Linked DNA regions of Homo sapiens. The protein of the gene in region 1 interacts with the protein of each later gene in a biochemical or structural test. Each region holds a gene or a part of one and is shown in the gene's direction. Other genes may lie near its edges.

Region 1 (7,029 bases):
GTGATTGTAGGAGGACCTTACTATCTAACCTACTCATCTAGGACAGAATGATCTGTTAACTAATTGCTGTTACTTGCACATACTTTCATTAAGTGTGAATATTTCAGTCATGAATATTCTGTTCTAAGTAATTTCTGTCAAAGATAGAGTCTGAAAATGAAAATTTTGGACTATTCCATGGATCATTACAGTTTACTTCTAAAGCACTTTTAAAGTGCTTCCAGAAAGCATTCTATTAGGTATTTTTGTATTGGGACTTAAGATGTGACAGAGCACTTGTAGTGACCTGGCTCCTACAGTAGTCTGTTTACTCATAGGAGCTTGAAATTTGTACACTTGACTGCTCTGTGTAATTTCAATATTTGTTGTTGCTTCTGATAAAGCTAAAATAACCATGTGGATATTATAGAGGCCAGTGAGGAATTCCACCATGGAGACTGCAAACTGACCAGAAAGTGCTTTTAAGAAATCTTTAGTAGTGAGTTTAAACAACAAACATATCTAGAATTCACAGAGTAAAATGAGCAGGATAAAGGTATACATTTGACATTTCATTTTAGCTTGAGAGACTGTAGGGAAAAAAGGGTCATCCTCTACATAAGCTTCCAGAGCTGCTTGCTACCCAGCCTCCTAGAGTCATTGCTGGGTACAGTTTGATTTACCTTCTTCACTTTATTTAGAATTTGTACTCAACCACCATCACCACCATCACCTTTCCCTCTCATTGCCTTCTCTCCAGCCTTCACTACAGACCATTCCTGGATTGGTTTAAACAGGCAACTAACCTTGCCATTATGATTAAATGTTTGTCATGGATTTAGCCCGTGTTTGGTGACAAATGCCTTATATCTATTGAGACTTCTCAAAGACTCTGGATATTCTCCATTATGTCTGACCTTAAAGTATTGAGCTTGGCATTTAGTAACAGGATTCATAGATATTTAAAGATAACTTGAGGACTTGAGACATATATTTTCTTAGTCTTTTCTACCTTTTCCTTTTCTAGCAAGGCAGCAGAATAGTTCCAGTGATTGTCTTTTGGTAAAAACCATTTTGTGTCTTATGTTATTTCATTGTTCTTATTTTATTTCATTCTAGGTCCAAGGGCAGCCATTAATGGTGCAGGTCAGTGGAGGCCAGCTAATCACATCAACTGGCCAACCCATCATGGTCCAGGCTGTCCCTGGTGGACAAGGTCAAACCATCATGCAAGTACCTGTTTCTGGAACACAGGGTTTGCAGCAAGTGAGTAATATTTAAAAATATTGAGCAGTATATCAGAGGAGAGGTTTCAAAGAATAGATTATTACAACCTATTTGATAATTGATATTGCATTTAACTGCTTCCTAACCCACATTTTGCATTCAGTTGATTTTCTGCCTTTATAGTACCAGTGATATAAACTAGAACTATGCAGAAATTGGACAGCTCCAGTAATGACTAAGATATTAGGCATGATCTTGAATTGCTGTAAAGTATATGAAGAGGTTAGAATCTAGTTTATAGTATATTTTATTTTAAAAGAAACAAAAATGAGTATTTAGAAAGTTAGAAAAATAACAAAACGAGCAAAAAGTGGGTCCAAATTAATTAAGTAGAAAACTGACGTATAGAAAGGATAAATAAAATCTAGATTGTTTAAGCAGACCAATAAAACAGGTAAATCCAGTTGAAACACTGATTGAGAAACAGAAAACAAAAGTAAGCAAAGATGTAGAAGAGATTAAAGGAAGGCCAGGCGCAGTGGCTCATGCCTGTGATCCCAGCACTTGGGGAGGCCAAGGCAGGTGGATCACTTGAGGCCAGGAGTTCAAGACCAGCCTGGCCAACATGACAAAACCCCATCTCTACTAAAAATAAAAAATTAGCCGGGCGTGGTGGCACGCACCTGTAATCCCAGCTACTTGGGGGGTTGAGGCATAAGATATCTTGAACCCAGGAGGCGGAGGTTGCAGTAAGCCAAGATTGTGCCACTGCACTCCAGGCTGGGCACCAGAGCAAGATTCTGTCTCAAAAAAAAAGAAGAGATTAACAGAAATATGTAGAAATGTTACATACAACTCTGTGGCATCATATTTTAAAATTAGATATTTCTCATCGAGATGGCAAAAAAAAACAAAAAGTCATTATATCCACTGTTAGGATGGATGTGGAGAAAAAGAATTAATCATTATTTTTGGTAATTTAAAACTGTAGAGTTATTTTGGAAAGGCACCTCACTATCTGTTAAATACAATGAATATTTGAGCTAGCAGTCCCACTTCTGAGAATCTGTCCTATAGGAAGAAAAGCATCAATAGTAGGGGGAAATTACAAAGACACTTTTCATAGCATTGTACTAGCAAAAAATAAAATTGCAATCTGAGTGTCCATTAATAAGAATAAGGAAATGGTTGGAATAAATCATAATATATTCATAGGGAATATTGCATCATCATTAAAAGAAATGAACTGTTGACTTGGGGTGGGTTAATATTGAAATATTTTTAGTGGAAATAATTTGCAGAGAAATAGTGTGTGATCTCATCTTTGTAATTCATAACCAACCCCCCATGAGTATATGTTTATAGTCATGGAAAAGAGAGTATGAGATAACTATTAGTTACTCTATCTAAATGTTTATATTGTTTCAACAGTTACAGCAGTCATATTAATGTCTTAGTTTTCTGGAGGAATTTAAGTTGAAAAAAGCAGCCATGATCCCACTGCTCATAAATCAAACTTGTACTTTTTGTGTATTCTTTTGTGTTTTTATGCATAATTTTTGGGCATAATTGTACCATGCATGTGGGGTTGTGTTTTCATTTTTTTTTTTTAATTCTTTCATAATGTTCAGTCAACTTGATGAATCAGAATTTCTAATTTATAAAATATAGTTAAGGATTTTGGTTTTCATTTGCCTTTGTAGGTAAACATTTGGGCACGATAGTTTTATTTTTCAACTGAATTCTCAGGATAATTTCTTTGGATTGGGGATTGCTTGGGTAAAGGGTAAGAGTATATTTGAGCCCACTGGCATATTTTTGCCAAGATAGAATTGTACTTGGGATTAAAAATAGTTTTCACATTTCTCTTTGCATAAATATATGAGGCTTTAAATATCTTTTCAGCATGTGCTTTCCTTGATTCCCTATTGCTATATCCTTTCTGTTCTTCTCTCTTTGCTTCCTCTCCAGTCCCCCTTGCTGCGCCTTCTCCACTGTTGAGTAGAGACAATGTGGTATAGTTAGGAACAGTATACTGTGAGTGTAGTGGTCCAAGCTTTCATTACCAGGTCTGCCATTAAATAAGCATTCTGATCTTGGCCAAGTTATTTAATTGTCGGTTTGCTCATCCAAAAATAAAATTTATATGAGATGATATCTAGGGTTCATTCTAGCTCTAAATTCTGTGATTTTTATGGGGTTTTATTTTGCTATAAGGAACCTTCAAATAGTTATTTCCCTGCTTCCAAGTAGGGCTATAACTAACCAAGCTGAAAAAAATATATTCTGTTACGTAAATAAAGCTCTCTAGGTGAGATTCCATAGCCTCCCTTACAATACTTAAGGCTTTAATCCCCTTTGTATAGGAGTTTTTTTTCTCATTAGTGTTGAGTAGCCATTTTTTAAAGAAGACTACTTCTTAACCTTTTTTGAATTGTATTCTCTATTTTAGAATCCTAGTAAAGCTTGCACCCTCTAAGAAAAAGTAGAGATGTCCAGTCTCATGAAAAATTCTGCATATAATTTTAGATTAAAATCCTTGGCCTGAGAAAGATACTGGAACCAGAGAGACAGCCAAGAAATAGATAGAAGAATATTGGAAGTTGGCATATAATAAAAGTGGTATAAACATATCAATGAAGAAATGGCTGAAGAATGATACAGAAAAGAAACTGATTTCTAATTCATACTGTATTTTAAAAAATATTTGCTAGGTGGATTAAAGATCTAAATGTAGAAAAGTAAACTTGGAAAATTCAAAAGAAAATATAAGAATTTTTATGCTATAGAGAAGGATATTTTTAAAAACAAATTGACTAAAACATAATATGCATTGAAATACATCAAATAAAAGTAAACAAGGTGAAAACTTGGAAAAGATATTTTTAATACATACAACCGAGTTTGTATTCAGAATATGTATAAATAACGTTTATGTATTTATACAAAAATAGGAAAATGGGCGAAGAATATGAATAGATGGAAGAGGAAATCCTAACAGCCAATATAAACTTAGAAATGAAGTTGGTTCACATAACCAGATAAATTTGTTTACTTATTTATTTGCCAATACTTTCTGAATGCCAATTATGAGCTGAGTATTTGGAAAAAATAATTCAGAAGACCTAGGCAATCTATCCCCTAACAAAGTAGGATCCATGAATGTCTCTAAGACATGGAACCCATTGACCTGTTTTTTTCACCTTCCTTCCATCAGTAGTCCTTTTTCCTATCAGCTGGTAGACTTTGTGATAACTTAAGGTTCTAGGCATGTTCTTCTTTCCAGACCAAGGTGGTCCCAAGTTGAAATTATGGATGGAAAGTGACCTGGCTATAAAAATCTATCTTTCTGAAAGTATCCTCCTTCCAGACTGCCATCTATGTTGAAGCAATGCTCAAATAAAAAAAGTTTGTTGATGGAATTAATGGTCAAAGAAGCAAAGAGAAGGTTACTTAGTACTAGCCATGTATTCTGGCTTTTAAGTTTGGGAGGTATTCTTGAATATAAAATACAAGACATTTTGAGCTATGGGGCTCTCCTCACTGCTTTCTCTTTTGCACTTAAAAAAAAAAGTGTTCACTAGTTATATGAAAATAGGATTTTGTACACCCAACATTTAAAGGGTTGTATTGCAGTTTTTTAGTTCCAAAATTTAGAGAAATATTTTTCAAGCTTCTTGTCAGGTTTCTGATAACACTCCTAATAAAGTGGCTATAGCCATTAAAAAAAAGAAAGAAGATAGATTTGGATAGCACACGATCCCTTGCTTTCCATAATTGCTTTATAAGGTTTAGCTATCCAATCCTAGGACCAAATAGGAGATACAAATTAAATCAACAAAAATTTGACAAACATTAATGACAGTAGTGAGTATTGGTAATTGGAAACTAATAGGAGGAATATAATCTGTCACATTGCCTTAATTATCTATTACCATATAACAAATTATCCTAGAAGTTAGCAGCTTAAAACAACAAACATTTGGCCGGTGCGGTGGCCCACACCTGTAATCCCAGCACTTTGGGTGGCCGAGGCGGGTGGATCACAAGGTCAGGAGATCGAGACCATCCTGGTTAACACAGTGAAACCCCGTCTCTACTAAAAAGACAAAAAAAAAATTAAGCCAGGCGTGATGGCGGACGCCTGTAGTCCCAGCTACTCGGGAGGCTGAGGCAGGAGAATGGCATGAACCCAGGAGGCGGAGCTTGCAGTGAGCCAAGATCACACCACTGCACTCCAGCCTGAGCCACAGAGCGACACTCCGTCTCCAAAAAAAAAAAAAAAAAAAAAATTTATTTTATAGTTTCTGTGAGTTAGGAATCCTGACACAGCTGTGTTGGATTCTTTCAAGGTCCTCTCAAGGCCCTTATCAAGGTGTTGTCCTGGGCTGCAGTCACATTTGACTAGAGTAGAATACATTTTGGGTTTTTTCTTTGTTTGTTTTTTTGAGACAGTTACTCGCTCTGTTGCCTAGGCTGGAATGCAGTGGTGCGGATCTTGGCTCACTGCAACCTCTGCCTCCCAGGCTCAAATGATCCTCCCACCTCAGTTCCCCAAGTAGCTGGGACCACAGGCATGTCCTACCATGCCTGGATAATTTTTGTATTTTTCAGTAGATACAGGGTTTTGCCATGTTGCCCAGGCTGGTCTCGAACTCCTGACCTAATCTGCTCGCCTCAGCCTCCTGAAGTGCTGGGATTATGGGCATAAGCCATTGTACCCGGCTTTCAGCATTTTTAATATATATAGTATTTCCTCTGTAAAAAAGTACTTCATCATTCACCAAAATGGCAAGATTAAAAAATAATAATAAAGCACTTTAGAGTGTATTTTATTTTTTTATTTTTTTGAGACGGAATCTCGCTCTGTCGCCCAGGCTGGAGTGCAGTGGCGTGATCTCGGCTCACTGCAACCTCCGCCTCCGGTTCAAGTGATTTTCCGGCCTCAGTCTCCCAAGTAGCTGGGATTACAGGCATGCACCACCATGCCCGGCTAATCTTTGTATTTTTAGTAGAGACAGGGTTTCATCATGTTGGCCAGGCTGGTCTCGAACTCCTGACCTCAAGTGATCCACCCACCTCGGCCTTCCAAAGTGCAAGGATTACAGGCGTGAGCCACCACACCCAGCCCAGAGTGTATTTTAAATATGCATGCTTTTCAATATATATAATCATACCACTGCTATCTTTCATAAAAACCGACATTGATTTGTTAATATCAGGTATCCAGACAGTGTCGAAATTCCCTATTTGTTTCATAAATGGAAAATAAGTTGTGTCTACTTCATAATGGAGGGCAGAGCAGGACTTCTTTTTTCCTCTTCAGAACATTTTCTGCTTTCTAGAGAAATGTGGATAACTCTCGGGGACCAAAGGAGACCAGTGTCAGTAGAGTACAATCCTTTTTTTATGTTCTTTTCTGCAGATACAGTTGGTCCCACCTGGACAGATCCAGATCCAGGGTGGACAGGCTGTGCAGGTGCAGGGCCAGCAGGGCCAGACCCAGCAGATCATCATCCAGCAGCCCCAGACGGCTGTCACTGCTGGCCAGACTCAGGTAATTCCACTAGCTCTGTCACACAGGAGCAAAACTGATTTGGAAGAGTCAGATAACTGAGTCAGATATTTCATGTATAGCATGTATAGTAGAAAAGGGGATGAAAACCATAAAAAAATATATTTTTGGCCGGGCGCGGTGGCTCATGCCTGTAATCCCAGCACTTTGAGAGGCCGAGGCAAGCTGATCACAAGGTCAAGAGATCAAGAACATCCTGGCCAACATGGTGAAGCCCCGTCAAAATACAAAAATTAGGTGGGCATGGT
Region 2 (7,029 bases), on another chromosome or scaffold:
GTTTATGCATAACTGCTGAATCTCCTAAATTTCTGAGTGCCCTAACTCAATTCGGTGCGAAATCGTCCACAGTGTGGCCATCATTGTCCTAAAAAACAAAAAGCACAAAAGGCTAGGAACATGGGCTTTATCTTCATAAACTTAAATTCCTGTTGGGAAAACAGGGCTTGTTAACAAGTGAAGTAAAGAACAGAACCAACCACTGACTAGGTAAATTCAGATTCAGATTGCCTAGAGATAAAAGATGACTGAAAGAATACTCAGGAGAGTTTATCTTGAAGGAATGATGAATGCTGAACGTTGAATAGCATTTACCTATGTTAAGAAGAGTGTCTTCGTCAATAAGAATAAGAATATACGCTGTTTGAGAGGAGAAAGGTTTTATTCTGTTTTTCTGTCTTTTTCAACCTTTGACAAAGTACCAAGCACATATGAGTAGACAGGTATTATTTGTTGTATTAAACCTTTGGCTACTCTTTTTTGCCATCTTACGTGACAAATTCAGTTGGCCATCTTGCTGAAGTTAAAGATGGCACATCTTTAAAAAGCATGTGGCCCTCAGCTTAATCTCTGACTGGTGTCTGCATGTTGTAGGTAATACTATGATAGTATTACCTTTAAAGCTGTAATTGTCAACCTTTGGTGTAACAAAGAATCACCCAGTTTTAACTCAGAAATTCTGATTCATTAGGCGTAGGATTTGCTTAAACAATCAGCATTTTTTACTGTGTACCCTAAATGATTATGACATAGGTGCTTATATGCCACATTTTCAGAAAGAGAGTTTACAGGTTTAAGGCTATGAAGAGGAATTAGCTATTTTGCCTTTAAATATTTGAAGTTTTAGGCAGCAATGCTATTTTGAAGCCCATAGCCTCTAGTAAGGAAGGAAAGCAACTAGAGTACTTTATTATCAGTATTAGAACCCATTTGGGCTCCTTTCCCATCCCAGTTATCCCTTTCTCTAGTCTGTTTTTTTTTGCTGTGCTATATGTTGTTCAACTATGTGGCTATCCGTCTTTCCTTTTCTCTGATCCACCCCCGAAACCTACTGCCATATTGGCCATAATAAATAATCTTTGTTTTTTAATGTAATTAACCTATTTTTTATTTCTCAGTGAACTCTTCCAGTGTTAGTTGTTTTGGTTCCAATTGTTGCTTCTTGGTTTCCCTCTCCATACTCTTACTCCTGGGGCTTTAGGAAAAACACCCCCTTACTGATTTAGGGTGGCATTTACAGCCTTTTGAAAGCTCTTCTCTCTTGAGAAATACACTATTATTATTTGTAATATTTTTGTTTTCTTTCTTTTTTTGGGGGGAGGGCAGGGGTGACTTAAAGACTAGCACAATAGTATGTACTTGTTTGAGTCTGGGAGGAAGTAACTTTTTTTTTAACCCTGTAATGCTTGGATATGATTTTTGAAGCTTCTTCAGATATTTAACTGCATCTTTGATTGCATATTTGTAGGTTTTGCCTAACATTACATCTCATCTAATGGGACATTGTTAGGTATTCACTGACTTGGATAAATGAGAAGAAAATTCCCCTCATTTGAATTGTTTGAAGATAATCATTGCTTCCATAAATTAGCCAGACTATTTTGCTCCTTTACTTAGGAGCTGCTTCATATAAATGGTTGAAATTAAGTTAGTACCATTATTGAGTCAACTCCAATGATTAGGACAGTTTCCAACTATCTGAACAATCTTCCTTCCATTAGTATGGAGAACCTACAAAAGAGTTTTTTGTGTCTTGTCAAATGAGCTGTATACTATAATAAAAGTGGCTGTTGAGCAGTACTACAAATGTCTTTTCTGGTCATGGTTCTAAGCACCTTAAGTTATTATATGAGGAAAATAACTCATTGTGTGCTATTTGCTTTGTTGACAGAGAGGGAGAAATTATGCAGCTGAGCTTTGGATATACAAATTTCTATGCAGAAATGTTTTGATTCCTTCTCTTCCAGGTATTAACATCATCCTCATTGTCAGAGCCCTCTTGCCTTCTATAGTTTGTATGAAGATTGGTTTAACAATTTTTATATTAAAAGCTATCAAAGTGATATATGCACACCATTCAAAATTTAATTCATAGGTCTATAATGAAAAGGAGCCTGCCTCCTCTGCCCCTTCTGACTCTCAGTCCTGCTGTCCAAAGGTAACCACTTAGAGAAGTTGTTTTTATTTTTTAAGTTTGTGTTTTCATGTGATTTGTCCTCGTCCTGTGTTCTACTCTATATATTAGAAGCTCTTCAAAGTAGCAGGCACCAGTATGACTTTACATGCTGCAGTATCTACGTGATAGATGCCCAGTCATATAGTGATCATTATGTCTGGGCTGTTACATGGTACAATTTTAAAAATATAAATATAATTAAAGAAAATTAGTTTCTGGGTTTAGAAAACAATCCCATAAATAGTAAAACTATAAAATTTTATAATAAAACTATTAAAATGAAGTGTAACAATTTATGTACATCTTATTTTTTATATCAAAATACTAAATGGAAGTTTAGTATTGTAATGGGGCAATTCATTATTTTTTCTTTAAAAATGAAATGTGCATGTAGGAAAATATATATAAAACATAGAGTTTAAATAAAATTATAAAGTGTTACAACATGGGTAAATATTTTGTATTTTATTTAAACAGTTTTGCCTCATATTTATAAGTATCTTGAGAAACAACCCATGTTAAGAAATATAGAGTATGTCTATTACCCTAGAAGGCCCCCACTCCTATTCATGTTTGTTTCCTTTAAAAAATAACTACTATGCTGACTTTTGCGATAATCTTTTCTTTATAGTTTTACCTCTTTGAACTTTATACACATGAATCACACCATATATTCTGTAGTGACTTTGCTTCTTTCATTCAGCTTTGTGACTTATGTTACTTTTCGTTGCAATATAGTATTCCATTGTTTGTCTGTACCAGAATGTATTTATTCTCTCTTGTTGATGGCATTAGATTATTTTGAGCTTGGGAACACTTGTACATGGTTCCCCGGGACATAAATGTAGAAGTTCTGTAGAGCAGTATCTTCACATTGAGGGATGTGAAGGCTTTGCAGAGTATAGATAGTTTAATGTAATTTAGAGTTCTTCATTATCTTTCCTAGGATCAGATATCTGCCGATGATGACTTCTAACCCATTCAGAATCTTTCTATGGTATATTGCCCTGGGGTGTAAAATCCTCCAGGACCCTAAACAGATGGACAGTTGATGCATTTCAGGGTAAGCTGTAGACAACAATATATTTGACCCCTGAAACAATTCAGTATGCTTGTCATTTGTTAACTAGAGTTATTTCAAACATAATTTTGAATAAAAAATAAATTTTAATAAATACATGTTCCCAATTATGCATATAAAAGCAATCCTACTATCTTGATATATATGTAGTAAAGTTATAAAAATATATAACAGAGAAGATACCAATTTTAGAATAGTTGACAAGTGGGCACTGTAGCTTATGCCTATAATTTGAGCACTTTGGAAAGCCTAAGTGGGAGGATCACTTGAGGCCAGAAATTCGAGACCAGCCTGGGCAACATAGCAAGACCCTGTCTCTACAAGTAGAAAAAAAAAATTTTTTTTTAAGTTAGCCAGGTGTGGTGTCACACTCCTGTAGCTCCAGCTACTCGAGAAGCTGAGGCAGGAGGATTGCTTGAGCCCAGGAGTTAATGCTACAGTGAAATATGATTGCACCACTGCACTTCAGCCTGAGTGACAAAACAAGAATCTGTCTCTTAAAAAAAAAAAAAAAGAAAAGAAAAGAAAAAAAAATCAAACTTAGAATAGTCAAAGAAGGAATAAAATGAGACTGGAGAGGGATATTAGAGGAAGCTTTAACTGTAGATGACCTTTTTTTCTTAAAAACAAAACAGAAAAACAAAAACAAACAAACTATGGTAAAATATAAAGCTAGGTGGTAGATAGATGAATCCTCTTTGGTTTAACTGTTTCATAATACTCTTTTTTTTTTTTTTTTTTTTTTTTGAGACAGAGTCTTGCTCTGTCGCTCAGGCTGGAGTGGAGTGGCACAATCTCGGCTCTCTGCAACCTCTGGCTCCTGGGTTCAAGTGATTCTGCTGCCTCGGCCTCCGAAGTAGCTGAGATTACAGGTGCCCACCATGGCGCCTAGCTAATTTATCTTTGTATTTTTTTAGTAGAGATGAGGTTTTGCCATGTTGGCCAGGCTGGTCTTGAATTCCTGACCTGAAGTGATCCGCCTACCTTAGCCTCCCAAAGTCCTGGGATTACAGGTGGGAGCTACTGCACCTGGCCTCATAATACATTTTTATCTGTAAGCTATAGTTTATTTTTGCCCCACATTTATAAGTATCTTGAGGAATAATGTTTAATTTGACCGGTAGTAAAAGCTGACTTGAAAGAATGTGGCAATAAACTTTGCATCAGAGCCAGGGGCACTGAGATGCACCTGTAGTCCCAGCCACTTGGGAACTTGAGGTTGAAGGAATGCATGACCCCAGGAGTTTGAGACCTGGGCAACATAGTGAGACCCTCCTATTTCAAAAAAATGAAAACTCTGCATCAGTTAAAAATGGGATCAGGCACGGTGGCTCAAGCCTGTAATCCCAGCACTTTGGGAGGCCAAGGCAGGTGGATCACTTGGGCCCAGGAGTTTGAGACCAGCCTGCAAAATACGATGAAACCCCTTCTCTACTAAAAATACAAAAATAAGCCAGGCATGATGGTGAGTGACTGTAGTCCCAGCCACTTGGGGAGCTGAGGTGGGAGGATCACTTGAGCCCAGGAGGTCAAGGCTTCACTGAGGCATGTTCGTGCCACTATACTCCAACCTGGGCAACAAAGTAAGACCTTGTCTCAAAAAAAAAGTTAACTGCCTATTTCAGCAAGAGGGATTGGGTAGATTCAGATGTAAGTGTTATAAGACTGTGTGTCTGTCCCAAATAACTAAGAAGATCTAGGCATACTTCTAGATGAATAAATAGTAATTTCCAGTTGAGATCCATTAACAAATTGGAGCTTTAGTTACCTAGAAGTAATTTAGTTAGGTTTCATCTTCAGAATTATCCCACATTCAAATACTTCTCAAAAACACATTTCAAAACAAAAACATTCATAAAATAATTAGTATAGTATTAACATCCATGAACTTTTAAGTAGCTAATAGATTGTTGAATCTAACCAGATTTACTGGTATATTCAGTGTTTCATCTTGCTTCCTGATCAGTGTTTCATGTAGCTTCCTTAGAATTCTTACTGTAATGGTAGCAATTTCTGAATCTTTAGTGATTTTTGTTGTTGTCATTATAAACTAGATATACATTCTTCAGGTAAAGCTTTCAAAATTTAACAATGTAAATGTGGAAACTGCTATAGAAAGTGAAAACATAGATCTTAACCCAGGTTTTTACTTTCATCATCCCTTGGCTCTCTTTCCTGAAATACTTCCCATAGTGTATGTATAAGCAGTGGCATGGACAAAGAACAAATGGAAATAGAAGTCATAAGATTTCATTGTCTGAGGGTTCCTATAAAGTCATGTAATTAGAGGTCTCTTAAATTTTTATTATATACCTTTTGATCTATATTATTATTGATTCATTCAGCAATTATTGCCTGTTACATATTATTCTTGATGTTGGGATATAGCAATGAACAAAAAATAAAAACTATTCATAAATTATATGCATATATTTTACTAATTAACCTCCATTTAAAATGTATTATAATTATATAAAGATTAGAGAAACATAGATAAACTAGATTAGTTTTCGATGTGCTACATGTGATCTAAGGCAAGGAAAGTGTGCACACACACACACACACATACACCTCATACCTATATGTATTTTTTTGGGGGGGTGGGGGGGAGATAGGGGTGTAGCCCTCTCGCCTAGGCTAGAGTACAGTGGTACAATCATAGCTTGCTGCAGCCTCAAACTCCTGGGCTCAAGCAATCCTCCACCTCAGCCTCCCATGTAGAATTACAAGTGCATACCACTATGACGTGCAAATTTCTTTTCTGTGTTTTTTTTTTTTTTCCTTTCTTTCTTTCTTTTTTATTTTATTTTTTTATTGGTGGGTATGCGGTCTGGCTATGTTGTCCAGGCTGGTCTTAAACTCCTGGGCTCAATCGATCCTCTTATCTTGGCCTCCCAAAATATTGGGATTACAGGCATGAGCCACCATGCTTGGCCCAAAGCATGTATATTTAACAGCATTATTTTTAATCAAGGAAAAAAAAAATCCCAGGGAGTTTTTTTTTTTTTCAATATGCTATTCTGAGAAAAGACTCCTTTAAAGGGCATATAATAAGTAATAATATCCTGTAAGTAAAAAACATATATTGATAAATATGACCTAGGAAAACAAAGGCTCTTTGTGGTCCTCAATACATTTTAAGAATATAAAGGGATCTTGACACCAAAAAGTTTGAGAACTGCTGCACTATTGCAACTAGTAATTTAAATATCATTCTTAGAGTTTTACATTATTAAATTGAAGTTTAAAAAAATGCAAGCTTTCTAAACCAGAACTAGAGTAAAAACATTAATTCGAAGTTTTTTTTCCCAATGAGAAAAATCATAGACTGTCACCTTTACCATTTATTTACTTGTGTCTCCTAGCCCTTTCCACGAAGAATAACCAATTCTTTAAAATTGGGAAGTATATTAAAGTATTACATTTAAAATTAAAATATATTAAACTTTCTAGCAAAGGAATGCAAATTAAAGTCAAATAGCCCCCCTGTGTTTTTATCCATCATATTGGCAGTAGTTCAAGCATTGTGGGTTGTTGCAAATGATGTTAAATGTCCATGCAGGTATTCTGTTGCTAACAGTATAAACTGAAAAAATCTTCTGCAGGGCAGTTGGCATTATGATATCAAATGCTTTGAAAGTCTATGTGCCTTTCAGTTCTTGGTGTAGGTATCCTAAAGAAAATTTAAGGATGGGACCAAAGATTCAGTTGTAAGGATATTTGAATCGTTCGTTGTGATTGTGTAGCAGTTCTCAAACCTTATACTTTTTTT

The links. The genes of interacting proteins can lie anywhere in the genome.
Region 2: the proteins of NFYA (region 1) and ELF1 form a complex in vitro, tested with the Homo sapiens proteins (one study listed by BioGRID).

The regions. Positions count from the first base shown.
Region 1 is NC_000006.12:41,082,948-41,089,976, forward strand, and holds part of NFYA (nuclear transcription factor Y subunit alpha), read left to right. Parts: intron 1-1,098; coding exon 1,099-1,245; intron 1,246-6,631; coding exon 6,632-6,763; intron 6,764-7,029. UniProt on the Homo sapiens protein: Component of the sequence-specific heterotrimeric transcription factor (NF-Y) which specifically recognizes a 5'-CCAAT-3' box motif found in the promoters of its target genes.
Region 2 is NC_000013.11:41,009,288-41,016,316, reverse strand, and holds part of ELF1 (ETS-related transcription factor Elf-1), read left to right. Parts: intron 1-1,891; exon of another isoform or gene 1,892-2,158; intron 2,159-3,122; exon of another isoform or gene 3,123-3,239; intron 3,240-7,029.